4 linked regions of the Homo sapiens genome follow. The protein of the gene in region 4 interacts with the protein of the main gene of each other region in a pairwise test. Each region holds a gene or a part of one and is shown on either strand. Other genes may lie near its edges. The genes, in order: TMEM14A, TMBIM6, LEPROTL1 and SLC7A1.

Evidence for each region.
Region 1: the proteins of SLC7A1 (region 4) and TMEM14A interact in binary tests that used the Homo sapiens proteins (3 or more experiments, as listed by UniProt).
Region 2: the proteins of SLC7A1 (region 4) and TMBIM6 interact in binary tests that used the Homo sapiens proteins (3 or more experiments, as listed by UniProt).
Region 3: the proteins of SLC7A1 (region 4) and LEPROTL1 interact in binary tests that used the Homo sapiens proteins (3 or more experiments, as listed by UniProt).

What each region holds. Positions count from the first base shown.
Region 1 is NC_000006.12:52,666,501-52,674,120, reverse strand, and holds the start of TMEM14A (transmembrane protein 14A), read right to left. Parts: upstream 3,009-7,620; 5' UTR 2,876-3,008; intron 1-2,875. UniProt on the Homo sapiens protein: Inhibits apoptosis via negative regulation of the mitochondrial outer membrane permeabilization involved in apoptotic signaling pathway.
Region 2 is NC_000012.12:49,744,552-49,751,575, reverse strand, and holds part of TMBIM6 (bax inhibitor 1), read right to left. Parts: intron 969-7,024; exon of another isoform or gene 871-968; intron 1-870. UniProt on the Homo sapiens protein: Endoplasmic reticulum (ER)-resident protein that confers cellular protection as an anti-apoptotic protein by limiting multiple stress-inducing pathways surrounding the endoplasmic reticulum and mitochondria.
Region 3 is NC_000008.11:30,090,950-30,098,421, reverse strand, and holds the start of LEPROTL1 (leptin receptor overlapping transcript-like 1), read right to left. Parts: upstream 3,015-7,472; 5' UTR 2,910-3,014; coding exon 2,894-2,909; intron 1-2,893. UniProt on the Homo sapiens protein: Negatively regulates growth hormone (GH) receptor cell surface expression in liver. May play a role in liver resistance to GH during periods of reduced nutrient availability.
Region 4 is NC_000013.11:29,592,665-29,599,513, reverse strand, and holds the start of SLC7A1 (high affinity cationic amino acid transporter 1), read left to right. Parts: upstream 1-3,825; 5' UTR 3,826-4,098; exon of another isoform or gene 4,099-4,370; intron 4,371-6,849. UniProt on the Homo sapiens protein: High-affinity, low capacity permease involved in the transport of the cationic amino acids (arginine, lysine and ornithine) in non-hepatic tissues.

The sequences.
Region 1 (7,620 bases), on a different chromosome or scaffold from region 4:
AGCTGTGGAACCTCAATAACTCAGTTTCTCCATCTTTAAAATAGGGATAACAAAAATATCTACCTTATAGGATTGTTCTGAGAATTAAATGATTTAATACTGTAAAGCACTTAGAACAGTGCCTGCACATACTGAGCACTCAACAAATATTAGCTGCTCCAATGATTACTCTTCTCATTCACCCTTACACCTATTTTAAGCTTGACATGTGTAAGGCTATTACTATTTCAGCACACTGAGAAAACTGAGGTAGGGTGAATTTGTAATTTAGTTAATGAATCATACCATAGTATTATAACATATATTTGTAGTCAATTCGACTTAACAGCTATTTATTTAGCATTTTCTTTAGGCAAGGCAGCAGGAAGCAATGGTAAGTGCTAAGACATGGCCTTGGTCCTCCAGGAACTATAGTACAACACAGCTGTAGGAGGCAGATGTGTGAATGAGCCCTAAGAGGAGAGGTGTGGGTACCATAACAAGGAGTGGCACCCAGCAAGGACTGGGAGCCTAAGGATGCCCAGATCAAACAGGGTCCCAGCTGGGACCTTGGAGAGATGTTGTGCCAAACCCCTATTAACCTCAATAAGGAAGGCAACAGGTTCAAGAGGCCAAAAGAGACCCATTAGGGGCTTACAAACAGAGGAGGGAGTCCAGTGGTGGTGAGCTGGGCAGGAAAACAACCGCTTGCAAACATCATGCAATTTATGCAGCATTTTCACTTAACACCCTCCCCTCAATGACCTCTACCTGGCAACTTGATTTAACTCAAAATTCAAGGCCTCAATTCCCCGTATGGCCCCTGTTCTATGGGACAGGTGGGGCAGGGGCTCAGATGTTCTTCATAGACAAGAAATAAATCTCTGGGTTGGGCAGGCCTGGGTTCCCTAGTTCAGAAAACACATTCAGGTTCATCTGCCACACAGGGTCATTCTAAGGGTATGCTTTAATTATTGCTGTCAGGTGCATTTACCCTACAGGGGAGCATGAATAAGTCAAGTGAAGAGGGTGCAGGGAAGGGTGTTCCTGGCAGAAGGGAGCGCATGTGCAAGGCCCTAATGGCACAAGAAAGCATGTTCTCAAAATGAAAAGTGCAAGGGGCTTGTGAAAAGAGAGGGTGCTGGTGAGAAAGACAGGGCTGTACACCCACATAAGCCCCGTAAAGGGAGTCTGGTTCCGTCCTAAGGGCAATGAAGGATCACTGAAGGGAGCCTCACAATCAGATTTAAATTCCAGCAAGCACTTCCCAGTTGCAGTAGTGAAGATGGGTTGTGAAGTGAGGCAGGGAGATAAATCGGGAAGCTGTTGCAGTAAAGTAAGCAAGAGCTTAGTTGATAACGGTAGGCTTATCTAGAGAAATGGCAATGAGAATGGAGAGAAGGTGGACAGATTTCAGAAGTTCAGGAGGTAGAATCAGAATTGAATTTGAGGCGGGAAGGGAAAGTCAGGGGTGAATCAGAGATGACTCACCCCTAGGTATCTGGCTTAGACCATTAGGAGAAGTAGGGAGTCGGGGAGCCTCATGCTATTCCCTGAGACAGAGAACATGGGAACAGCAGCAGGTGTGTGGCGGTGGGAAGAGGGAGGTGGCTAGGAATGATGGGACCTGTTTAGAATGTATTCAGTCTGAGACGCCCAACACACAGTCCGGAAAACACCCTTACATACAGATCTGAAGCTTATGAGAGTTCTTTCATTATCAGGTGTAACTTCTAGACCTAATTTTCTCCTAAAGCTAAGTAGCTGTTGTGAAAGATTAATTCCACTCCATCCTGAGCCCCCCAGCTCTTCCTGCGATCTTCTCTTGAGGACCCATACCCTTTTACTTGGTTGGGATTCTCTCAACTCTCAGCCAGCCAAGCTCCTTGAGGGCAAACCAAGGTTCAGTTTATCTTTGTCCTCCTCACAGCACCAAGAACCCTGCCATGCACAAGGCAGGTACTTAAAATACTTGTTAAATGAATAAATGAGTGAGTGAACCAAAGGAACAGCTTCTGCCTGAAGACATTCTGTAACTGACCTACCCAATACAGCTTTATTGCCAGGAAACAGGTAGCCCCTTAATCTCCTTAGCGAACTGACTGTTGTTCTAAAGAGGCAAAATAAATCTACTCCCAATGCTTGCAAGAAGATTCTGTTCTCACAGAGAATATTCAGACAAAAGAATCACCTATTCCATGACGGAGCCATGTGGCCAGGCCAGAAGCACACATTAAAGCCAGAGGCTGTGTTAACATGGAAGGGATAAGGTGGGAGAGGATGTGCACAGCACATCACACGCTCTCATCACAAATGTGATGCTCAAGCCTTGGAAGGACTAAAACGCATCTTGGATGCAATGCAGCAAAACGATTTACCATACCAGGTACAAAACAAGGTGACAGGGGACAGCCTCGCTGCCCGCCCCAAATCCTCCAAAATTCGGAGAATTAAGAGATTTTCGGTGAACTGTTACATAAAAAGCATTTTCACATGCTAAAGATATAACAATTACCTACCCTTGAGCTCTTGGAGGGCACAAAAGGCACATTTTCGAGTGGGGTCTGGGTGGTGCTGAGAAGGTTAAAATCCTGCCAAGCATTTTGCAATGGTCCATGAGCCCACCCCACCACCCCAGATCCAGGAAGGTAGGAGGCAGGATAGGTGGGATATTTAGGGATACCAGAAGGCAGAAACTCGGGAGGAGGAGAAAAATGATACCGCGGAGGTAAGACCGATGCCCTGCAAAATCCCCTCAAGGTCCTCTGCATCATCGTTTGCTGTACAGGTTTGGCGCGGGGGAGGGGATGCCCGCTAAGCAACGCCCCTTATATTTCTGCAGTTTTGTAAGAAAATTCAGAGCAGGAAGGTCTCCATTGCGGGATGCACAGCTCACCTGCAGCCCCGAGCCTTCACTGCAGCTGAAAAGACAGAAGTCTGGGGCCAGCTGCCGCCAAGCGCGGTACCTGGAGTCCGGAAGCAGTCTCCGCACCAGCGCTGTCCCACTCGGCGCCCAGCCGTCTCGCGCTGAGCAAAGGCCGCTCCCTCCTGGAAACGCCCTCCCTGCCGCGCGCATGCGCTGTGTCCCTTCTCGCCTTGCAGGACTCCACCCGGTCCATGCCCTCCGGCTGAATCCGGGCGGCCTGTAGGCCAGGCAGCCAGGAGGCCCTGTGCTGCAACATCCCGGCGGCAGCCGGACCCGTTGCTCCGTCTATCCTGCCTTCGGCCCTGTCCTGGAGCCAGGGCTGGGGTTTGCTGCCTCCCGCCTGACGGAGCAGGACTGGCAGGAAGCGTGTTTGCAAGAAGCCAAAATTACAGAAGGCGAAGATTTTTAAATTAACTCCATTCATCTTTCAAGGGACATTTCCAGAACCTCCAAAAGGCAACCCGAGGTCTTCTACACACCCTCCAGCAGACTGTCCCCACTGTCAGTGGAGGGAGCTAAGGTTCAGTGAGGTCAAGTGACTTAGTTGTCCCAGGTCAAAATCCAAGTTTGCCTGGTGTCAAAGCCCAAGCACCCTTCATTACACTATGGGATCATCTAGATGTGGTTGGGAGACGAGGATCCTAGTTTTAAACTTCAGGCCCAGGATTTGCTGGGTTTAGATATCTACTGGGAAAGGTATAGAATTCCAGAGTTGGAAAGCACTTAAAACCTTGCCTAATGCAAGGCAATCCGCTCAATCCCAGGAACGAAACTTAAACTGACCTTATTTTTTTTTTAAATACAGGATCTCAGTCGGTCGCCCAGGCTGGAGTGCAGTGGCACCATCCCGTCTCACTGCAACCTCTGCCTCCTGCCTCCTGGGTTCAAGCGATTCTCCAGCCTCAACCTCCCAAGTAGCTGGGATTACAGGTGTGTGCCACCTCACCCGACTATTTTTTTTTTGTAGAGACGGGGTTTCACTGTGTTGCCCAGGATGGTCTTGAATTCCTGAGCTCAAAGCAATCCTCCCGCCTCTGCCTCCCAAAGTGCTGGGATTACAGTTTAAATTGACTTTAAATTATGCCTCCCTGTAGCAACTTATCATCTCAATCTTCTGCCTTCTTGATTGAATACAGAACTCCGACCCTCTTCCTTATGTAACAGCCCTTTGGAGATTTGAAGAAGGTTGTCATAGTGAAGTAGCTCTAGAGGTTCTGTGTCACTGAGAATTACAGCGGAATTCCTCAGAATAAAAAAGGAAACTCAAAAATTAAATCTTGTGAAGTTTGTTTGCTACATCTATTCTTTGTGCATAAAAGTGCTTCAGGGAAGTAATATAACTACATCTAACTTATGAAAGTCTAAGTTGGTCCTGGGGAATTAATAAAATTCCTGAAGATTCACAGAAGAGTTGATGGCAAGGCACTGGAATGTGGCGTGGAGAAAGTGATAGCCTGAAATTTGGTTCTGAGTTCTCTCAGCCCTCCTTTCCATCCCCTTCTATGCCCATCCTTACCCCAGCCTCCTCACCTTCTCTCCTCACACTCTCAGAACACTTACCCTATTTGGAATAAAACTAAAATCCTCTTGGAATACTTCATTATCTTCATCTGATGTGACCTGGGTAAATAACTCCCCTCTGGACCTCAGTGCCTGGATTTAAGATATGGACAAGACTAGATGCTCTGAGATCCCTTACACCCTATCACCAACATACTCGAAGCTGGAAACAGCCTCATGATATTCCTACTCAAGGCGTATCACCTAAAACTAAAGAAAAACTCTTTGAATATTATGGGAATTCCATACCCTTGAATATGTGGGAACAGGATGGTTCTTAGGCAAAGGGACCACTGCCCTCTCAACTCATAGGCACCAGCTGCTGCCTTCTCCAGCTAATGGAAAGGCTGCAGCCCAAGGTAAGGATGCAGGAAAGCCTATTCCCCTCAACTGTTTTGTAAAGCTTTCTATGCATGATCCACAGCAGAGACTCTTAACTTTCAATGTGTCACCAACCTCTTTGGCAGTCTGGAGAAATGCACAAAATAAAATACACAGGATTGCAAAGGAAGCCAATTTTATTGAAATGCAATTTCATTGAAATCAAATTCTTAAACATTTAAATCTGTCACATAATAGATGTGCTTCTTTATTAACATATTAAAGATTACAAGACCTAGGGGGTGGATCTAATTATTACCATAATTTCAGAGTGGTGCTGTACATAAATATTTTAAGATATCTGTAACGTGGATATCTGTGATTCCTAGTGATGACAGAGACACAGGTACTAATACTGCTGTGGTTTGTTGCCTATTTTCCTGATGGAAATAAATAAAAACTTTTTTCCATCGAAGTTTTCAGATTTCCTGATTTCTATCCTCTGGCCCCTTTAGATTCACAGATTCCAATTTAAGAACTCCCAGTCTATAATAATGCAAGTTTTCGTAAGTTGTACATAGATGGAATCAGAGAAATGGAAGTAAGGTGAAGAGCCTCACTGACTGGCTGGCTGCTCAGGCAGGGCCTCACGGGATGGTTACACCCTGTGGATCCTGAGCCTGCTCCTCATTTTCAAATGTTCAGAAACTCAGTTTGTCTCAGTTCTTCTGGGGGCACCCTGGCTTTTGAGAGACAGATTCATAAAAATCAGAGTCACAAGGGACTTACTGATTTTTTTAAGGCCCACTTCAGATTCTTGATTTTTTTCTCCTTTCAGATTTCAAACAATGTCAAAGGACATTATTCTTGTCCTTTGAAAATATGATCTTATGGCAGGCCAACATTTTAGCATCGTTTCTATGGCTCACTTACAATGACAGCCATCTTGCAGGCACACGTCTAAAGAGGTTACCTTCCATTTCTGTGAAGTCAAAAATCTCCATAAGTGCTTTTGCACTTTTTGAGGAAATTGAAAAGTAACCAAAAGCTTTCATTATGAAAGTCTCAATGTCACATTTAAGCAACTCACATCCCTTTTTAGCAGTGTTGTATATAAGATGTACAAGGCATTGAATGGATAAGATCTTTTCATTTTCTTTGGTAAGAAGTTTGTAGACTGAATGCAATTTGCCAAAATTTTACATCTATACTGTCTGACGAATACACAGATAGATGAGCTAAGTCTAGTTTGTATTTAGACAAAATATCAACAATATTTTATGATTTCAGCAGTTTCATTAAAATCCTCACAGAAATGAAGAAGATGATTTGAAACTCCTGTTTTCAAGTCAAAGTACCTAACAGCTAGAGGGAACATATTTTTGCTGCCATGATTTGGCATATTACTTAAAATTGATGTACTGTAGAAACCAGGATTGTTGGTGAGATATGACAGAAATTGGCTTTATACTGTAAGGAGCCAACACATCTGTTATCAAAAAATTTCCCTTCTTCTTTGTCCAGAGGATATTTTAGCTGCAATTCTTGAATCAGGAAATGAAACTTTACTCAGTTTCATAGAGCAATCAAGGGAACGCTATGACAATGCAGGCTTATTTGCCTGGTATGCCCATGCTAATTCAGCAGCTGCTATTTTTGACTGAGCATTGGTGTCTTTTGGGGAAACAAAGGTATTTTTGATTGGTTTAGAAGCATTCACCTGTCCCATCTTACTTGTGAGATTTGCCCTCCATATGTGCTTGCACATCCCCTTCTCCACCATGTCCAATCTCAAATTTTTTTCTGTATATTATGTAGTATGCTCTGTTTTGGTTATTTACCTTCCTAGTTCAGTAGTATGTGTCCTTCCATCCATCATCAAAATTACATAGTCGTTTAGCCTTCTTCTTCAGTGATGGGGTCATGGTTGCATTGGTATTATAACCATTCTCATTATCTGACCTCTTAGAAAACATGGTCACAATATTCACAATGTTAAAAAATTAAACTAGCACTATCTTGTTACAAAGCACACCAATTAATCCACAGGCAAAGTCGAAGATGAACTATTAATAATCATTATATACACTTAAGCCACATCACTTTGAATGATGCAACGATGGATGGATGACCATTCTGAACTACAAATTATGGTTGCCAGTATCAGTGGTCAAATGGGTGACAACAAGTAAAGATGAATAATCTGTGCCGTATCCATTTGATAGACAATGTTGCTTTCAGACCCTCTAAAACTTACGGGTTTTGTGCATTTCCTCCAACCTTCCACACTTTGTTGCTAAAACCAGGATTATTTACATTCCAGGGAAGGGTCTCCCAGGACACAATGCTCTCAATGCTAAAATGGGATGGTTGGTTACCCTATTGGGTTGCCATTAACCAAAGGGCTACCTCTCCAGAGGCAGGAGGGGAGGCACATGGAGGTAGAGACTCCTCACCTTGCTTCCACTGATGGTGTTAAATTTCTCCAGAATATTTCTCACAGGTTCCTCTTCTTTGGGGGGTGACGAAAACAAGACATTGTCTTTTGTTAGACTTTGGATCCACTGAAAGTTCAATGGCCTCCATCTGGAAACACAGGCAAAGCTCAGGGCCAATGCCTTCCCCTGGCTCAGGCCCTAAAGGGAACTCAGAAAAGGCGGCCCTCCAAAGGCAAGAAAGGAGGTGAGAGCAGCTCCACTGACAACTCCACCAGCCAAGGAAAACAGAAAAAAGCATCCACTGGTGGCTGGTGGGGAGCATAAACCATATCCTGGGGAGAAATTCACCTCCCCAAACTCACCAAAGTACTCCCTTACCTTCTCCTCAGTGGCTTT
Region 2 (7,024 bases), on a different chromosome or scaffold from region 4:
AGAGGTTCCTACCTCCATAAAAAAGGAATTTATGCAGAAAGGAGGATTTTTTGGGGGGTATTTTTTTGACAGTTTCAGAACCTTTCCTACAGAAAGGTTAGAACAGTACAAAGAATTCCTGTACAACCTTCACCCAGATTTCCTAAATGCTAATATTTCACATTTGCTTCATCTTCTTTCTATATAGCAATATATAGACAGATGTAAAAATATTTTTTCCCTAACCATACAGACACAGTGCTCCTAAACACTTCAGTGTGTATATCCTGAAAGCAATGATCAAAATCAGGATATTAATACTAATGCAATACTATTTCTAATCTGCAGACCTTATTCAGATTTTTGCCAACTGTCCCAATGTCAAAAAGGGCATTTTTAAACTGAACTATATCCAGGTTAGATCATATCAACACCATAAAGTCAAGTTCTTAAGTTTTGCTCCCTCCCCTATTTCACATGCAATCCTAAGTAAACGTGTTCAATCTACAGTACTAAAGATCCAGTCAAGAACTTTCATCTCTTCTAAATATAAATCCTCCAAACTCCTATCAGGGCCATAATGCCCATCCATTTTAAATCTACCAGAAAAGGAGGGGCAGGGAGGAAGGGATTCAAACATAAAGTTGTGTGAAACGCCACCTACTGAATGAAGCACTCTAATCAGCACCCAGCCCAACACTCAGAACAATTCATCTAGGTAATAATAAAAGTTACAGTCCCCAAACAAATTTCCTAAGGAATCCTGGGCCAGTGGAAAGATATAAACATCATCTGCTTCCTGAGGCTCTCTCCCACAAATGAAACAATCACAATGGCTGGCTTGCTTTCTCTGGTTTCTTCTTTCCTTCTCTCATTAACATCACTACTCACCTCAGAACTTTTGTTAATTCTGTTCTTAAGGACAGATACAGTGAGAAGCTGCAGAACCTACTAAGGTTGTTGCTCTCTCCTCTGAGTCACACGGATCTGGGCCCTCTTGATCTAGATGGTGCAATTATTGCAGGTTGTTACAAGGCCAACCACAGCCTTCCATAACCAAGATGAATATGACTATGTCCTCTAGAGAGCACACTTACAGCATGGCAGAATTCAGCACCTGGAAAGTGTCTTTGTTTAAGGTTTCCCATTAACACCCCTAATGACATCCCTAGACAGCACTTACAATAATACTGAAGCAACTTTCAGAGCCAAGTTTCTCAGTATTCACAACAGCAATGCTAAAGAACCTCTTGCTTCCAATTACAAGAATTAAAGAAAGGTAAGGGATGGAGCGGGGTGGATCCTCAAACGCCCAGGGGATTCTAAGAAAGAGGCAATGCTCATGTAACCAGACCCTGCTTGGCGGAATCTGTTCGAGGGGAGAATGGCAGAAACTCCCCTTTCTCAGATACTTCTCTGACGTTTCCCAGGGGGTACTGACTGCCTCTTTCTGGTTCTCTCTTAACAACTGTTGATGGAAAAACCAAAACCATCAAAGGCTGTGTGGGTTGGGGCAGGGGGATGAGATGTCAAACGGCAATTTCACTTTGATTTAATAGAAGCTTGTGGTTTGAAATCATTAAAAAATAACTAAAACTTCTGTTTTTCAATATCAGTATTTCAAAATTTAAAACAAAACATGTAACTACCAAATATTATAGACGCAAAAGGGCACAGCAATTTTATTAGCTTTATGGAGAAAAAAAAGAAACCTGGTAAAGCAGATGGTCCCTGACTTACCAGGGTTGACCTATCACTGGGAGAAATTGATACTCATTCGGTACACTCCTTGATTTGCGATGGCTTACATCTGGATACACCCATTGTAAATTAAAAATATCGTTGACTCAAAAATGACTTACAGGTTGGGCACAGTGGCTCACGCCTGTAATCCCAGTACTTTGGGAGGCCGAGGCAGGTGGATCACTTTGACGTCAGGAGTTCGAGACCAGTCTGGCCAACACGGCGAAACCCTGTCTCTACAAAAAATACAAAAATTATCTGGGCATAGAGGCACGCCCCTGTAGTCCCAGCTACTTGGGAGGCTGAGGCAGGAGAATCACTTGAATCCAGGAGGTGGAGGTTGCAGTAAGCCGAGATCACACCACTGTACTCCAGCTTGGGCAACACAGCGAGACTCCGTTTCAAAAAAAAACAAAAATGACTTACAAAAAGAAAAGGACTTACATTTTCAACTTACGGTATTTTCAACTTATGATGGGGTTTTCCAGATGCAGCCCCGTCTTGAGGAGCATCTGTATACATTTAATGTATATGACACAATGTACAGATGACAATTTCAGAAATGTTAAAATGTGAGAGGGAATACATAGGTCTTAGAATCAAAGAAATATGATAGTTTGCTCTAGAGCTGTTCCAAATAGACAAGAATATACAGATAAGTAATGAGATCAAACTGTTCTGACAAGTTTTGCCAGATAAAATAAACTTACCAAGTTTCAATCTTAGCTTCAACTAGCGAAGCTCAGAAAAGATACCTACATTTCAATGGCCGATATGCAAACTCAGCCAAACAAGATTAAGTTGCACTTAACTCAAAAATAGCAGCTCTCATATCAAGTATTTTCCATTCTAGGAGCAATCAGCTCTTAAGAGCTTGAAGTATTATATTCAGTACCATTAACCAAGTAACTCGCTAACATTCCAGAGGAGCCCACAGTTAAATGAAAATCTTTGTTTTAAAAAAACACATTAAAATGTTATAGTTTACCACAATAAAGAAAAAAAGTACATTACAAGCTGCTAAAAAATTCAATACAGCAGTCCTTTCACACCTCTAAGCCTATTACTTACTAATTCAATTCTAAAATAAAGAGGAGGGGTTATTTACATAGAATACAATGTGGATAGTGCCTCCTGGAGTTGTGGAAAATCTGCCTATACTGCGTTTGTAACTGAAAAGTAAATGTTCAGGTGTTAATCATAACCAAATTCCTCTAATTTCATTCAGAGCCTCCTGTTATGCCTTCATCCCAGGAGAGGAAAACCTGTCAGAAGCTGTCAACATGTCATGCACATACTGCTAAAGTTTTGCTGAAGTGTCATCATTCTGTGGTATCCCTGACCAGCCTCCTCTGCCAGAGCCATGCAAAAACAAAAAGCTAAGAGCTTAATACATAGCTCTCCCAAGAAAAAACTCAAGTAAACACAATTGTTTGAGTTAGATATTCCTGTGGTCTGCTTTTGCTTGGGAAGACAGGGACAGCAGGGGCTGGTAGGAGGAGACAGGCATTCTTAGCAGTGGACATCTAGGTCATGTTAAATGCCTTGTTTTGTTCTAGGTATCTCCCTTACCCTTGTCCTAAAATGAAAGACTATTATCAAGGGTCCAGCCTTAAATTAAAAACAAAACAAAACAAAACAAAAAAAAAACAGGCTGGGTGCGGTGGCTCACGCCTGTAATCCCAGCACTTTGGGAGGCAAAGGCAAGCAGATCATGAGGTCAGGAGTTGGAGACCAGCCTGGCCAACATGGTGAAACCCTGTCTCTACTAAAAATACAAAAATTAGCTGGGCGTGATGGCGGGCACCTATAGTCCCAGCTACTCAGGAGGCTGAGGCAGGAGAATCGCTTGAGCCAGGGAAGCGGAGGTTGCAGTGAACTGAGATCACGCCATTGCCCTCCACCATGGGTGACAGTGCGAGACTACGTGTAAAAAAAATTTAAAAATTAAAAAAAACACAACCATTCTCTTCAGTCCTATTCCCACACACCTAGGAGCTACAGTGAACATGAAACATGCTGAAGTAGCCAAAAGCTATGCAAAACAAAACTATCGTGGATTTAGTATGCGTTCTATGCAATGCTGGAGCCAAGACAGACTTTGCCTCAGTGTGTACAGCAACATTAAAACAGCAAGTCAAAGAAACACTGTTCGCACATTTAATTAAATATCAGTTTATGTTTTATTATGAAGACAATAAAGTCTCAAGGTTATGTTCACTTCCAAAAAACAAAAAAGGAAAAAGGCCATGCACAATGTCTCACACCTGTGAGCCCAGCACTTTGGGAAGCCAAGGTGGGAGGGTCGCTTGAGCCCAGGAGTTCCAGACCAACCTGGGCAACACAGCAAAACCTCATCTCTGCAAACAATTAAAAAATTAGCTGGGTGTGGTGGTGTGCGCCTGTTGTCCCAACTACTTGGGAGGCTGAGGAAGGAGAATTGCTTGAGCCCAGGAATTTCAGGCTGCAGTGAGCCATCATCATGTTGCTTCACTCCAGCCTGGTAACAGAGCAAAAATGTGTCACTGCACCCCAGCCTGGGCAACACAGCAAAACCGTTTTATAAAATTAAAACAAAAAAATTAGTTTGTCAATTACATGGTTCTTTCTTCCTGTTGTATAAATTCAACCATCCTGAACCTTGTTCCCACATATCTAGAAGGGACCAAATTGATACTTAGAAGAAAAATCCCATATAGTTTAAAAGAGGGGAAAGGGCTGGGCACGGTGGCTCATGCCTGTAATCCCAGCACTTTGGGATGCCTAAGTGGGTGGATCACCTGAGGTCACGAGATCGAGACCAACCTGGCCAACATGGTGACACCCAGTCTCTAGTAAAAAAATACAAAAATCAGCCAGATGTGGTGGTGGGCGCCTGTAATCCCAGCTACTCAGGAGGCTAGGGAAGGAAAATCGTTTGAACCCAGGAGGCAGAGTTTGCAGTGAGCCGAGATTGCGCTACTGCACTCCAGCCTGGGTGACAGAGCCAGACTCTGTCTCAAAAAAACAAAAACAAAAAAAGGAGGGGGAAGAACTGTTAGTAATTTGTCAGTAGTTTTTTTTCTTCTTCTTCTTCTTCTTCTGTGTTTTTGGCCAAGAAAGCTTTCCATTCATTAGTTTTTACTACTGAGTAATGTTCATACACTGTATAACCATGTCCCCTGCATAGTGGTTAAGACTGCCTGCTACTTCTGAATCCTAGTTATTTCCTTAGCAGTGGGACATGCAGCAAGCTGCTGGCACTTAACCTCACTGTACTTCAGTTTCACCTACCATGTGTAAAATACTAGTACATAACAATCCTTATTTCCTAAGGTTGCAGATTAGGTGAGATAATACAAATAAAGTTCTTAAAATAGCTCTTTGTACATAGAATGAGTTCAATACATGGTAACCATTGTTATTACTGGTGTACTAACATTGTTATTACTGGTGTACTCATTACTACAATATCTTCAGTAGATTATTCTCTTTTAAAAGTCTAGTTTTAGCCTGTAATCCCAGCACTTTGGGAGGCTGAGGCAGGCGGATCACTTGAGGTCAGGAGTTCGAGACCAGCCCAGCCAACACAATGAAACCCCATCTCTACTAAAAATACAAAAAATTAGCCAGGCGTGGTGGTGGGCGCCTATAATCCCAGCTACTTGGGAGGCTGAGGCAGGAGAATGGCTTGAACCCAGGAGGCGGAGGTTGCAGTGAGCCGAGATTGCACCACTGCACTCCAGCCTGGGCGACAGAGTGAGACTCTGTCTCAAAAAAGAAAAAAAAAAAAAGAGAGAAAAGAAAATTATAAACTGAAACATAAAGGCACTTGAAAAATCTCATTACTGGTAAAAGTATAGATGCTCGATTTACAATGAAGTTACATCCCAATAATCCCATTGTAAACTGAAAGTATCGTAATTTATGCACTTACTACATATAACCTACCAAACATTATAGCTTAAGCCTAGCCTACCTTACCTTAAATGTGCCCAGAACGCTTACATTAGTCTGAAGTTGGGCAAAACTATCTAACGCAAAGCCTACTTTATAATAAAGTGTTAAATATCTCATGTGAAAATATCATACCAGATATCCCTAGTCTGGGAAAAGATGGAAATTCTAAATGTGCTGGGTTTTTTTTTTTGAGACAGAGTCTCGCTCTGTTGCCCAGGCTGGAGTGCAGTGGCACGATCTCAGCTCACTGCAACCTCTGCCTCCTGGGTTCAAGTGATTATCATGCCTCAGCCTCCCAAGTAGCTGGGATTACAGGTGTGTGCCACCATGCCCAGCTAATTTTTGTATTTTAAGTAGATACAGGGTTTTGCCATGTTGGCCAGGCTGGTCTCAAACTCCTGACCTCAAGTGATCTGCCCACCTCGGCCTCCCAAAGTGCTGGGATTACAGGCATGAGCCACCATGCCTGGCCTGAAGTACAGTTTCTAGCAAACAGGTAGCACTTTTGCATCATTATAAAGTAAAAAATCATTAAGTCCAATCATCATAAATTGGGGCCCGTCTGTACTTTTGTTTAAATGGCATACCTTTCTTCTAGCACATTTATACTATCTCTCTTGTCCCACAGGGCCATGGACATTTTGAGACAGCCTAATAGCCACTAAGTGATAATCTGATATGGTAAAGGATTTGATGAAGTAAATGCGCAAAAGCTTGATGCTTTCCCTGCCACTCCCAGGAGGTAGGTCAGTTCAGTTTCGGAACCATCCAAGGAATTGTTTCATTCAACTAGGACCAAGCTTTGATCTTCCCAGGTGGACACCCTAGATGTCCCCGCCTCTCCCTTAACTTGGACCCAAATCCCTGGATTAGCTAATACTGAATCCATCTCCTCCAGGGGGCTGCCTCAAAACCAAACCAGTAACTGGAGATGAAATGCCTACTGCCTTCAGTAAATTATTTTTTGTACCAAACGTTGACACTACTTCATCTCCCTCTCTATAACGTTTGACAGATACTGAATCCTAAGAAGGCCCCAAAATCCTAAATACATAATCTTCTTCCAGTATAAACCAGTAATCCCTCCCTAATAACACCATATTTAGCCCAAATGGGGAGCACACATAAATTAAGACAAACAGCATACCCACTTCACCCTCACTGGTGAAGCTCCTTTTTCACGTGTTTTGGATTCCAGTTAATTGTGCAGAAACTTCTCACCCTGAGGGCAGAGCTTGCATCTGGTTCAGCTCAGCTATCCCCAAGATTTAAGCACTACAAAGTCTCTAGAGCAAATTTAGACCCTATTATCAGATCAAGAGTGCTGTAACCTCAAATCAACATTCCCCAGCTGGCTCAGAGT
Region 3 (7,472 bases), on a different chromosome or scaffold from region 4:
CCCTTAAGTTCTTATTTATACTAACTCATTTTCGTGACACAATTGTTAGATGGGAATTCAGAGTAAAACACATTTTTATTTTAAAGAATCATCTATGCTCACTTATATATATTTTTCAATAGGTAATTCATATACCCAGAACAAAAATTAAGTGAAAAGGAACTTTCTCTTATCAAAAGTAATCACTATTACCTATATACCTTGTGACACAAAATTTTCTAAGTTTATCTTCCCACACTGAAACAAATGGGAATTAGGAGAAAGAGTTGCATACAAGCAAGAATTGCCCTTTGACAGGAGGGAGGAAACAACAAAAAAAATTTAAACCAGGCAGAAAAATCTCAAAAAGCATGTTCACGGTAATCTCCGCAAGAGGCAAGCCACCTTAGGACCATGAGGGCCTCTGAAGGTGGCTGTTCTGTGACAGAGAACAGTCATTCAAGTTTTTATCAAAAAAGAAGGCCTAAATTCTTTGATTACACTCTTACAAAGTTAATGAAAAATGATTCCTTAAAAAAAAAAAAAAACCAAGGGACTAAAATGAGATAAGGCTCAGGTATCAAAAAACAATTTTAAAAACATAAACCAAGATTGTCTTATTGTAAGTGCTATGAATATGAATACTGGAATAACATTTGTTTGGGGGAATCAAGATACCTTGAGATAATACTTCTACTCCATTAAATACTAAATATGTGTGTGTGTGTGTGTGTGTGTGTGTGTATATATATATATATTTTTTTTTTTTTTGAGACAGAGTCTCACTCTGTTGCCCAGGCTGGAGTGCAGTGGCGTAATCTTGGCTCACTGCAACCTCTGCCTCCCGGGTTCAAGCAATTCCCTGCCTCAGCCTCCTGAGTAGCTGGGATTACAGGTGCCTGCCACCATGCCCAGCTAATTTTTTTGTATTTTTAGTAGAGATGGGGTTTCACCATCTTGGACAGGTTGGTCTTGAACTCCTGACCTCATGATCCATCCGTCTCGGCCTCCCAAAGTGCTGGGATTACAGGTGTGAGCCACCGCGCCAGGATTAAATACTAAATTTTTTTTAAATATTCATAACACAGTTTGATGTGACATCTCATCTTCCAGTCATACCGAATAAGGTAGCCAATTAGAGGTTAAATAAATTGCTTAAAAGTGTTCTCAAAACTTGCAGTTTCTTCAATCTTATGAAATTGGCAACTAGGAAGATTTATATATACACTTCATCATTTGTATATAAGCTGTTTCTTAAATGACACATCAACAAGGCAAGAATTCATACAGTAATTGAGTGATGCAACATTTGGAAGACAAAGCTTAGATAAGTCTGGGTTCTACTCCCAAAGCCTCTAGGCTAGGCATGGAGCAGCCCAATTATCTAGCAAAACTCTCTAGAGACAAGATGCTGATTCTGTGATTACAAAGAAATTAGAGTAGAAGGAGGGACCACTTCTCTAACCTGGGAGTTACCAGAAAATCCAATATATCAAAAAGTAATAGACAAATGGCTCAAGCAATGCCTAATGGTCTCTAATTACAGCAACACTCCTTCCTAATATAAAGATATTAGGCCAAGAGAAAGAAACATACTGACTCATAACAACCAGAAAATCCTGCTGAAATCAAAAGTGCAGTTCACCTGAGGCACCTTCATCAGTTTAATGCAGTATTTCCCTAGGTCTGGAGAAGTAAATTACAAAGCTATTTTCTTAAGAGACCCCCGCATTATTGACACTGAAGAAACAGGGAAGAACAGGGAAACGGGCAACATCCTAAAAACCACAGCAATTCACAATAACTGCCTTTCACATAAGGGTTTAGAGTCTATCATAGTTCAAAAGGAGATTACAAAGTATCCCAGTTGCTTAAATGACAAGGTTTTATATGGGAAATGAAATGTTTTCAGACATTGAAAATAAACAAGAAACAGTAAGACTGTGACCCTGAAAAAAAACTCGATTAAGTTTTCCTTAGAGAAGAAAAAATACAAAGAAAACCACTGCTCCCAAAGTTACCTGCTTCCTGCCTGACTGCCCTTCTACAGAGCGGCAGGTCAAGAAATCAATGTAATTAGTTAAGCAGTAGCTGAAAACTTTGCTTCTCATCACACTGACAACAAAACTACCTAACAGGTGGAACAAATGCAACATTCCTTTTTTTAAAAGAAAATACATGAATAAGCCAGTAGTTTTTCATTAAGTTGTACCAGTATTTTATCTTCTTAAAAAAAAAAAAGGAAAAAAAGAAAAATTTTGAAATTTGAAAAAGCCTCAGGGTGCAACTGCGGAGAGGGAAGAGAGCCAGGAGCACTTTGGGGTCGCCTACAGGATCAACTCTAGGGTCCAGACACCGCAGATGAAAATGCACCCGTTTCGGGAGCCTGTAAAGCCTCGGGCGCGGGCGGCCGGGGTGGACGTGGGGTCGAGGTTTCGGGCAGACCCGTGCAGCGCCCGCAGACCGCACTTGTGCCTTTCGGTGGGAAATGACTGGTTTTCCATAGCTGGCATCTCTAGCAGCCTCAGCCTTCTCAATCCCACGCTCTGCCTGCCTCTCTCTCGGATGCAAACTCCTGCAAAACGTGTGTGGCCGTCCAAGTCGCGACGGGACTCCTCACTGACCGCCAACCACTTCATATTTTGTCCGGGGGGCGATGGGTGGGAGAGAGGCTGCCGAAATCGGCAGAAAGTGGGGGCTGCGGGGCGAAGCCGGGGTCGCAACCGTCCGTTGCCCGAGGGCGCCGCGCCCACCTCCGGGCCAAGCGCAGGGCCGGGGCGGGGGTCGCTTCCCCGGCGCAGGGACCCCACGCGCGCGCGCGAGCCCGGAGGGGAAGTGCGGGGGCCGCGTGGGACCCCCGGCCCATCTTCCCCCGCCGGCCCCAGCCCTCCCGCGTCCTGCAACCCAGGCCCACCTTTGATGCCTGCCATGGCGGTGACGTCGCTCCTGGCTCCACGACCCGAGGCGGCGGCGGCAGCAGCGGCAGCCGGGAGACCCAAGACGCGCTACGGCGGCCAGACAACACCCGGAAGTGCGCGACGCAGCACTTCCGCCGGCGACTCGGGCTCGCGCGGGGGCGCGGGGGACGCGCCGGGCTGGGCTGTGGGGTCGACCCCCTGCCTCTCTTCTCCGCGGGTGTGCAGATCGCCGCCGGCCGAGGCTTGCCGCCGCCGCCCCGACTGGGGGAATGAGCAGGCGCCAGGTCTTGAATTCCTGTCAGGGCCGGTCTGGGGGCTCCCTGCTGAAGCCCCTGTCCCTGATCCCGCAACCTCCCGCGTGCGTTGGGAAGGGGTCGCGGGTAGCGGCCGTCCTTTGGATGCACGTGTGATGGCTTTTGGCTTAATTTCACATTGTTTTGTTTGTTTTTTGAGACAGGGTCTCTTTCGCCCAGGCTGGAGTGTGATCACGGCTACTGCAGCCTCGATCTCCAGGGCTCAAGTGATTCTCTCACGTCGGCCTCGCAGTAACTGGGACCACAGACATGAGCCACCATGCCTGGCTTTTTTTTGTTTTGTTTTGTTTTGTTTTTTGTAGAGACAGGGCGGGGTGTGAGACTCTCATCTTGTTGCCCAAGCTGGTCTCCTGAGCTCAAGGATCTGCCCTCCTCGGCCTCCCAAAGCGCTGGGATTACAGCTTGATACCCTACCTTGTTTTAACCTGATTGACTCGCTCTTAGCTGAGAGAGCGGGACAGACTCCATTTTGGTTTCTTCGCTTGCAGCACCTTGTCCCCCTCCCTTAAGGACATAACTGGTGCAGACTGACACCAAGCACATCCAGGAATGTGCTTACTGATAAGATACTGAGGCAAGCTGTACCAGCAGCTCCTGGGAACGCGCTCGGTTGATGGTACCCAAAGCCCCTGCGTTTATCTCTTTGTGATAATTTAAGCCCCATGCACCTGGAACTGTTTATTTTCCTGTAACTGTTTCTATAACCATTTATCTTTTAACTCTTTGCCTGTTCTGCTTCTGTAAAAATTGCTTCAGCTAGACTACCCCTTCCCTATTTAGACCAAGGTATAAAAAGAAATCTAGCCCCTTCTTCAGGGCCGAGAGAATTTTGAGCTGTAGTCGTCTCTCGGTCGCCGGCAATAAAGGACTCCTGAATTAGTCTCAAAGTGTGGTGTTTCTCTATAACTCGCTCGGTTACGACAACAGGTGTGAGCCACTGCGCACATTATTTTACTGCGCCTTTTCCTCTCTCCCTCCATCCCTCCATCCCCAGTCCTATAATTAAGGTTAGTTGGGTGGTCTGCACTTGGCTCCTTGGTTTCCTATACAGGACTAGGGTTCTGGTGAGGACCCACCTCCAGAGATAGGAGCAGCAGGGCTCAGTAAAGGGTGGATTTAATAGAAATCCAGTCCCTTGGGTGGCTGTCTTTTTGGTAGTAACAAGGCAAGGAAAAAAAAGTGAAAGCCCAGGTTCAACACCTTTATTTACACATCCTACAATTATTTATAGAACATTTACTATGTGTTAGGCACAGGGTTAGACGCTGAGATGTGCAAAACCAGGTACTGTTTGCAGACTGGTGAGGAAGACAGACACACAAAAAATGTAAAATTGCAATAATGATAATTGCTAGTAAAGGGGATCAGAATATGTCACTCTAAAATATGCCACTTTGAAGTCTGGTGTGGTGACTCAGGCATGTGATCCCAGCACATTGGGAGGCTAAGACAGGAGGATCGCTTTGGCCCAGGAGTTGAAGACCAGCCCTGGCAACATAGTGAGACTCCATCTCTACAAAAACGAAAAAAAAATTAGCCAGGCTTGGTGTGTGCCTGTAGTTCCAGCTACTTGGGAGGCTGAAGTAGGAGGATTGCTTGAGCCTAGGAGGTCGAGGCTGCAGTGAGCTCTGATTGTGCCACTGCCTGGGCAACAAAGCAAGACTCTGTCTCCAAACAAACAAATAAATGTCAGGCCTCTGAGCCCAAGCTAAGCCATCATATCCCCTGTGACCTGCACGTACACATCCAGATGGCCGGTTCCTGCCTTAACTGATGACATTACCTTGTGAAATTCCTTCTCCTGGCTCATGCTGGCTCAAAAGCTTCCTCACTGAGCACCTGGTGACCCCAGCCCCTGCCTGCCAGAGAACAACCCCCTTTGACTGTAATTTTACTTTACCTACCCAAATCCTATAAAATGGCCCCACCCCTATCTCCCTTCGCTGACTCTCTTTTCGGACTCAGCCCACCTGCACCCAGGGGAAATAACCAGCCTTGTTGCTCACACAAAGCCTGTTTGATGGTCTCTTCACACGGACACGAGTGAAAATAAGGCTAAGGATTGTTTTGAGCTGAAAGCAAATAAGAAGCAACAGGCATAGGAGGAGCTCTCTGCTCTCTCCTTTTCTACCCAAAGGCCGTGCTTAAGTTCCCTTTGTAAAGATAACATAAAGTTCCACTTTTTGTTTTGTTTTGTTTTTCTTTTGAAACGGAGTCTCGCTCTGTGGCCAGGCTGGAGTGCAGTGGTATGATCTCGGCTGACTGCAACTTCCGCTTCCTGGGTTCAAGCGATTCTCTTGCCTCAGCCTCCCAAGTAGCTGAGACTACAGGCACGCGCCACTACGCCCAGCTAACTTTCAGTCTTGCTCTATCGCCCAGGCTGGAGTGCAGTGGTGTGATCTCAGCCCACTGCAACCTCTGCCTCTTGGTTAAAGTGATTTTCCTGCCTCAGCCTCCCAAGTAGCTGGGATTACAGTCATGAGCCACAATGCCTGGCTAATTTTTGTATTTTTAGGTAGAGACAGGGTTTCACCATGTTGGCCAGGCTGGTCTTGAACTCCTGGCTTCAAGTGATCGGCCCACCTGGGCCTCCCAGAGTGCTGAAATTACAGGTGTGAGCCACTGCGCCTGGCCCCCAAAAAATGTGTAAACAAATTTTTCTACTTATAAATATTTACATTTCCCAGACCAGGGAGAGGATGCAACTCCTATGCCCCAGTAAACAGCATTTATTGGAGTCTGTGAAAACATTACTAAAATAGCCCTTATCTTTCATTAGTTTTCCCCTATATATTTACCTTCTTAAAATCTACTGCCCCTAGAAGTCCAAAACCTTTCCTTTGTCTACTTTTCCACAATGCATCACCCTTTGTTAAAATGATACATGCTCCCAGGCCTAATTACTTTTTGAGTTTTCACTTCTTTTCTGTGAAGCCTCCTTGTGCATGCAAAATAAACCTTTTTTTTTTTCCTGGTAATCTGTACTTTGTTAGTTTAATTCACAGTTCTCAGCTTCTGAACCTAGGAGGGTAAAGAAAGTTTTTATCCTTTCCTACACTAGGAAAGATGGGTAAATAGTTCTCTGAAAACTTTTGATTGCGATCTGCCAAGGAAAATTTCCCCCAAGGAGAGACAACACAGTGATGAATAAATGTGTTAATAGAGAACGGAAAAGCCATCGCAGGTGGCGGGGTGTGTTGTTTGTGTGTGTGTGTTTGCGTGTGTTTGTGTGTGTGCGTGTTTGTGTTTGTGTGTGCCTGCATGTGTGTGTGCATGCATGTGTTTGTGCGTGTTTGTGTGTATGTGTTTGTGTACGTGTTTGCGTGTGCATGGGTATTTGTGTGTGCGTGTGTGTGCGTCCTTGTGCGTGTTTGGGTGTTGTGTGTGTGCGTTTGTCTGTGCGTGCGTTTGTGTGCGTGTCTGTGTATGCGTTTGTGCGTGCATGTGTGTTTGTGTGCGTGCGTGTCTGTGTTGTGGGCGTGTTTGTGTGTGCCTGCATGTGTTTGCGTGTTTGTGCACGTTTGCGTGTGTATGCATGTTTGTGTGTGTGCGTGTGTTTGTGCATGTGTGTTTGTGTGTGTTTTGTGTGTTGTGTTTTTGTGTGTTTGTGTGTTTGCGTGCGCGCATGTATGTATGTGTGGTGGGGAGTTAGGAGCTTTGGCAGCAAATGGAGCAAGGAACTTGCTTGGTCCCTTGGAGAAAAGAGAGGTGGCCAATGGGGTTGGTCAAGGTTGGGGTGGGGCAGCATGCTTATATAGTAGGGACGTACACAAGCAGTTTTGGGTTTTCTCTCTGAGCAATAAAAATCTTTTGAAGGTTTTAAAAGGAAGTAGGTGGGGGTGAGCTACGTACGATTTGAATTTTTAACTTTTTTTCAGTCATCAGACTAACATAAAGTGGCATGTAAGACTGTGGAGTGAATGTTTAGAAGAGATATTTCCAATATGCTTTAAAATGAGAGCAAATGGGAAGCTTGAGGCATTACCCACTTCGCTTCTCTCTACTATTTCTAGAGTTGAATTACAATTTAAACAACAACAACAACAACAACAAACAGGTCACTTCTTGAGTCTTAATGCACCAAATGAGTCTATGGGTGTTTTGTAGGAGAGTAGAATTTTTTTCTGTTCAAGTTAGTGCAGAAAGATCTACCATCTCTTTCCTGTATCATGAAAAAAGTTTCCATTTAAGGATGTGGTAACAAAACCACAAGGCACACTTGAACATATGCCATGGAAATACACGCTGTTTACACGGAATC
Region 4 (6,849 bases):
GCATTTTATAGGTTTGTGTTTTACATTTAGGCCTATGATCTGTTTTGAGTTAATTGCTGTGTAAGATGTTAAAGTCTGTGTCTAGATTTATTTTTTGCATGTGGCGGTCCAGGTCCAGTTGTTCCAGGACCATTTGTTGAGGAGACTATCTTGTCTCCATTGACTTGTCTTAGCCACTCTGGATCAGCTATTTGTGTGGGTCTAGGCTACTGTTTGGGTTTCGATGTTTGTGCCCTCCAGACCTCATGTTGAAATTTGATCCCCAATGTTGAAGGTGGAACCTAATGGGAGGTATTTGGTTCACGGGTGTGGATCCTTCATGAAATGTCCTTCCTGGGGGTAGGTGGGACGGGGAGATGAATTTTCACTCTATTAGATGACTCTGGAGCTGGTTATTTAAAGGAACCGGGCCCTTCTCTCCTCTCCCTCTTGCTTATACTCTTGTCATGTGATCTCTGCACACACGCACACTCCCTTTCATCTTTTGCCATGAGTGGAAGCAGCCTGAAGCCCTCTCCACATGCAGATGTCCAATCTTGAACTTTCCAGCCATTAGAATTGTGAGCCAAATAAACCATTTTTTCTTTATAAATTACCCAGACTCGAGTATTCCATTATAGCAATACAAAACAAACTAAGTCTATTTCTGAGCTCTATATTCTGTTCATCTTTATACACATTTTTCATCCTTACCATGAAGTTCGTATGTATCCAGCAGGTAGTAAAATTCTTATTTCGAAAATGAGGAAACTGAGGCACAGAGTGAGCAGGGCCCCTCTCCCCAGGCCAGCAGCTGGTTAGAATTGAAACCCACATCTGCCTGGCTTTGATTCTGTGCACTTTCCTTGCCCCCAAGGTGCCTAATGGTGCTAGAAAGAGACTTAGTATGTCAACCTTAACCTTAGATGTTGCTCTCTAGGGCCTAAATTGTAGCATCTCCCTTTCTTAATGGTTGCTGGAATCTTGGGCAGCTGCTCTTTGATTGTAATCAAGGCTGCCTGTCACTCACGGTTTCTCTGAACCTGTAATGTGAGTCTTGACCTGCCTAAAAACTGGCTTTGCTTAAAACATGTAGCCCTCTTTATCAGCATCCTCTAATGTTTTGCTGAGATCTTGTGCGTAACTATTTTTTCCCTGGTTCATACTGAATCCTTTTTGCTGAGAAGTCACTTGCTCATGGGGCTTGTCTTATTGTCTTTTTGAAGACAGGACCTTGCTGAGTGGGATTGCTAAACGGAGCACAGTGCTAAAAATCTCCTGGGTTAAATGTCACCATACTCCCATCAGGGCCTGGAGCACTTGCTCTCAGAATTTACAAACATTAACTCATGTTGGCGCTCTGTGTTGCCCAAGGAGAGCATCTCTACAATTTATGAAATTCTATTTTACTGCCAGAAGTCAGCAAAGAGAAAAAGAAAGAAAGAGAGGCAGAAAGAGAAAATTCCACAGTCATATTTCAAACACCAAGGGATAGATTTTTTTCTTAAGAATATAAGATTTACAAGCTCCAAACAGGAGTGAAATAGTTTGCAGAAGCTCTCACAGCAAATGAACTGGTAGAGTTCAGATTCAAATCCTGATCTGGTGCCAAGGGCAAAGCAGGTGGTCTTTAATCCTACCAGGCTTCTCTCTGTGAGAAGGGGACATGCTTACTGTGGCCTCAGCAGACAGAGTAGGCTGCGTGGGATCTGGGAGATCTTCTGTGAATGGAAGGCATCATTTCACCACTGTGCAATTGAACTAAGATACATTGTTTTATTTATTTTTTATTGATTTTTATTATTATTTTTTTGAGACGGAGTCTCGCTCTGTCACCAGGCTGGGGCGCAGTGGTGCGATCTTGGCTCACTGCAACCGCCGCCTCCTGGGTTCAAGTGATTCTCCTGCCTCAGCCTCCCGAGTAGTTGGGACTACAGGCGTGCGCTACCACGCCCAGATCATTTTTGTATTTTCAGTAGAGACGGGGTTTCACCATGTTGGCCAGGATGGTGTCAATCTGCTGACCTCATGATCTGCCTGCCTTGCCCTCCCAAAGTGCTGGATTACAGGCGTGAGCCACCGTGACAGGCCAGATTTGTTGCTTTAAAACAAAGCATATATGGTGGCTTACTATGATGTCAAGCACTGTTCAAAGCACATTACAAAGCTGGGCAGGATGGTGCTCGCCTATATTTCCAGCTACTGGGGAAGCTAAAGTGAGGCGATCGCTTGAGCCTAGGAGTTCAAGGCTGCAGTGAGCTATGATGTTGCCACTGCACTCCAACTTGGTGACAGAGTGAGACCCACTCTCTAAAACAAAGACAAAAACACATTTTACAACTGCTAAGCCATCTGCATGTGTTCATTAAAACTTTTTCTGGGGACTTTTTCTGGCTCATCCCTGTAGTCCCGATGCTAGGGGAGGTTGAGGCAAAATGATCGCTAGACAGCTGGTATTTGAGGCCAGCCTATGCAACATATCAAAAACCCGTGTCTATATGTAGAAAAAATATTAACTAGGCGTGATGACACAAGCCTGTAGTTCCATCTGCTTGGGAGGCTGAGGCAGGAGGATGGCTTGAGCCTGGGAATTTGAAGTTCCAGTGAGCTATGATTGTACCGCTGCATTCCAGCCTGGGTGACAGAGTGAGACCCCTGTCTCTAAAAAACAAACAAATGACAACAGCAACAACAACAGAACACTTTTTCTGAAGCTAGCACCATGCAGTTATGTACTTTATAAATTGCTAGTCTAATTCCAAGGGAATAGTTCAGCAGCTGATATTTGAGAAGGACCTGTAGAAAGGATTCAAAGACCACGGACACCGTCCACTGTTTTTCTGTTTTCCTATAAGATAGAAGAAGGATGGCATTATTAATTTATGCCCTGTTTACCTATCCCAAGTCCCAGATCACTGGATCTTTAAAGATTATGATTCTCGCTTGGCTTTTGGTACAAAAGGAGACAAGGAGGGAGCTTAAAAGGTGAGCACGGTGTGATTCAGGACTGAAGCTTCTGCCACTTCCTGGGGGGTAACTGCAAAAGTGAGCCGTTCTGACTAGCCGTTTGTGCATTTGCCACTGCCAAGGGGGCACAGGTAGATTCAAGCTTTGGGGCTCTTCTGACAACTGGCAAGGATAAGGTATTAGCAAGGGCAAAGGAATAGTAATAAAATAATCCAATAACAAAGACATGAAGATTTATAATAATTTTTAGGCCGGTGCAGTGTTTCAGGACTGTAATCCTAGGGCGCTTTGGGAGGCCCAGGCGGGAGGATCGCTTGAGGCCAGGATTTCGAGGTTAAGGTGAACTGCGCTCCAGCCTGGGCAATAGAGTAACACCCTGTCTCTAAAATGAAAAGAAAACAGTTTAAACCTTTTAAGTGCATACCAAATCTTTTATTTTGGAGAAGGAAAACTGGTCTCGAGTTCCGTGTGAGCTCCCTGGGGCCCGCCGGGAGGGGGTTGGCACGGCCGGACCTGCAGCACTAGTTCTGGCCAGGGCGCTGTGGGATCTGCAGGGGACCACAGGATGCTGTGGCGCGGTGCGCTCAGATTGGCGGAGAAACGGCCACACGCCTACGGAGCTACTGAGAAGGCGAGCGGAGGCGCAGCCCGCCCGCCCGCCGCGGGAACCCCAGGTTGGGGCGCTGGGCGCGCGAAGACTCAGCCGCCCCGCCCACCAAGGGCGCGTCGGTCCCCGGCCGCAGCCTCTGGGCTGGCAGCCGCCGCCGCGCCGCGCTCCCATTGGTGCCCGGCGGTGACGCGGCCGAGCGGGCCGGGGCTGCCTGGTCCGGGGGCGGGCGTGGGGCGCGGGGCGCGGAGCGCGAGGGGCGGGGGCCGGGCGCACTGCTGATGAAACCTGGCGCCGGAACCCGCCAGCCCTCGGCGCCCATTCAGTCCGCGCAGGCAGGTGTGAGCAGCGGGTCAACTACCTGGCAGGCGCGCACGCGGCCGCGGGCTCCCGCTAACCGCAGCCTCCACTCCTCTCCCCGCGCGCCGCGCCCCCGCCCCGCCCCGCCCCGCCCGGTCTCGCCGGCCGAGCGTCCGTTGGTCCTTGAGCGCGTCCGACAGTCTGTCTGTTCGCGATCCTGCCGGAGCCCCGCCGCCGCCGGCTTGGTGAGTGCCCGGCCCCGCCAACGCAGGGGGCAGCTCCTTGGGCCCGGGTCATCACGGAGGGGGCCCTGGCGCCGCGTGGGGCCGCGGCAGGGCGGCGCGGGAGTGGCGAGGGCCCCCGCGCCGGGAACGCTGCCATCCTCTGGGAAGGGCCAGGACCAGGGCCGGGCGGGCCCCGGAGTGGGCGAGCGGGGCTGGTGCCCATGCGACTGTCGCCTCCACGGAGTCCATTTTGGCTCCCTGAAACCGCGGCGTGGTGCATGATGCAACACCGAGTGAGTAAGCGTGGGCGATCTGGCGATGCCCGCTCCGCGCGCCTGTCCGGGGACCCGCGCGCCGCTACGCACGGGGTGGTCGGGGTGCGTAGGCGGGCGGCGGGCACGGGGGCCAGACTGGGAGGCACACGGAGCCCGCCGGCGGCGAGGAGACCTTCCCTTACATGGCGCGGTGCAGAGCACCCCGCCCCGCCACGAGGTCCGGGGATGTGTCATCAGCCGTGGGTGGGGACTCTGCCCGGCCGCCCGGAGGGTGGTCCCGCGGCAGGTGGCCGGCCCAGGGACTCTGCTGCCATCCCCGCCCGGTGGCCGCCCTGACCTAGGGCGCCTGGCTCTCCGCTTGTCCCTAGAACCCGGGACGCGCCGCCTGCACCTCTCGTCTGGGTCCCCAAGATTGCTTTGAGGAAGTCTCCCCTAGGTGGGCTTCCTTGTGACCCAGTGTGGCCTGGAAAGGCCGGGTTCCTCAAGCCCTCCACATGGTTTGGAATGAGAGGAAGTTCTTCCGCCTTTAGCAAGACACCGTATTCTCAGGGTGTTCCTTTCTGCGTAGTAGAAAACTTCCCAGGCATGGGCAGGTCAGAGTCATTCTAAAACCTGCGCGTACACAGAGCGGCAGCTGCACTGTAGTACTACAACAGCCTGCTGGTTCAGCTCCTGACCCTTTCCAGGGGATGGGGGAACCAGACAGCAGTTGTGTTTGACTTGTGTGACTAGGATAGTCAGACATGTGCCTTCAGGAAAAAAATAAATAAATAACCTACATTTCCCAATACTCACGTCATCACCGCCATGCCCTCATGTGTTGGGTTTTAGTCCAGACATAGTTACCAGATGGTTGAGATTTCAATCCCAGGTGTATCTCCCTAAAGAATGTGCCTTTTATCTTACTTACATTCGACTAGTAGAATTGTGTATGTCGGCCTCTGGCCGAATGCCCTAATTGTATTTAATTCGAATTATAATTTATCTGGGATTTTTCCTAACATTTCTTGCCCTTTATGTTTGGTTCAGATAATAGGAAACCATGATACATTTATTCCTCTGGTATTTTTAGTTGATCTCAGTGGAAATTACCATGATTTTTATATGAACACACCCTCCTGTTATTAAAACAAAAGGTCTTATTTAAGTCACACGAACAGAATAGAAACTTAGGGGAAAGGTCAACAATAGATTAAAATGGTTTTAAAAATAGGTTTAGCATATTACGATCATGTTTAATTATTATAAAGGTAAAATTCAAAGGATGTCAAAGGAGTTTTGAGTAAAGAGGAAAGGGCTTAGTAAGTAGATCAGAAATGTACTCCCTTGTCTGGGTCTGGATCCTAGAGCCACGTGCTCCTGTACATATGATTACTTGCTTTAGGTGAAAAAAAAAAAGAAAGGCTTGAAAGACAAGACTGTTGACTTCAGGGAGTTACAATTTTCTATTTGGTAGAAGAACTCATTCTTTGATGGAATTAAATACGTGTTGATTGATTATTCTGGTCTGTAGTTTATTTTAACCAAAGTCCATACAAATAGATAATTATGTTGGAGGGCTCAGAATTATGTCCAATTAAATTAATCCTTTCTCATTATCAACCATGTATTTGGAGGGATTGCTATTAATCCTAGGGACAAATTTGAAATGTGAATAAGTGCATCCTTGTTATGGAGAAAAATATTGTTTCCCTCTAACCTTGGAGATACTTGAGTCTCGGAGTTATCTCTTCCAGAGGCATCTTCAGAGATGCCTATCACTCCACCTGCCTCTTGGTCCTCACTCCAAGCAAGACCTTCCGATAGGATGTGGTGTTTTTCTGTATAGTTGGCCCCTGCAGACCTGGATAGATTTTAAAGGCAGATCCAATAGGATTGGCCGGTGGATTCATGGAAGGACGAGAAAGGTCAAATATGACTCCAAGCACATCGGAGTTGCTGTATTAATGAGATGGGAAGGCTGAGCAAAGAACGTGTTGGATGGAAGAGGGACTTTTTGAAAGTCACAACTGACCTTTTTAGAACTCTTATCCCCAGGGTCAGGGCTGGAAGATGTATCTTCTTGGGGCCCCTCTCAGGTGCCTGCCTGTGTGTTGCAGCCACCCGTCCAGGCTGCTGGCCTCCTTCCCCTTCACCTAGCTTTACTGGCTCCTCTCGCCAAATCTGGGGGGTCTCTTCAGCCTCTGTCTCCTTGCTGCCCATGGCCTCCCTTTGCTCCCCTGCCGCCTTCTAGTGGGCCGCCTGGTGGTGGACTTGTCCTGTGGGATGGAGACCCTCCATACATGGGGTTCAAAGGTCCTGGGGTATTCCTGGATCTTCAGGACATCTGCCTACCCTCAGGTTTCCCAGGCCTCGGGTGGGGAGGCATCAGATCCCTGGCCAACCTGCTATCCACCCCAGGGTTTAGACCTCTCTTCCCGTGAGGGAACAGAGTAGTAGCTTCATTTGTGGCAGATTATCTGCCTTGTGATAAACTTTAGTGGCCTCCCTTTCTGTT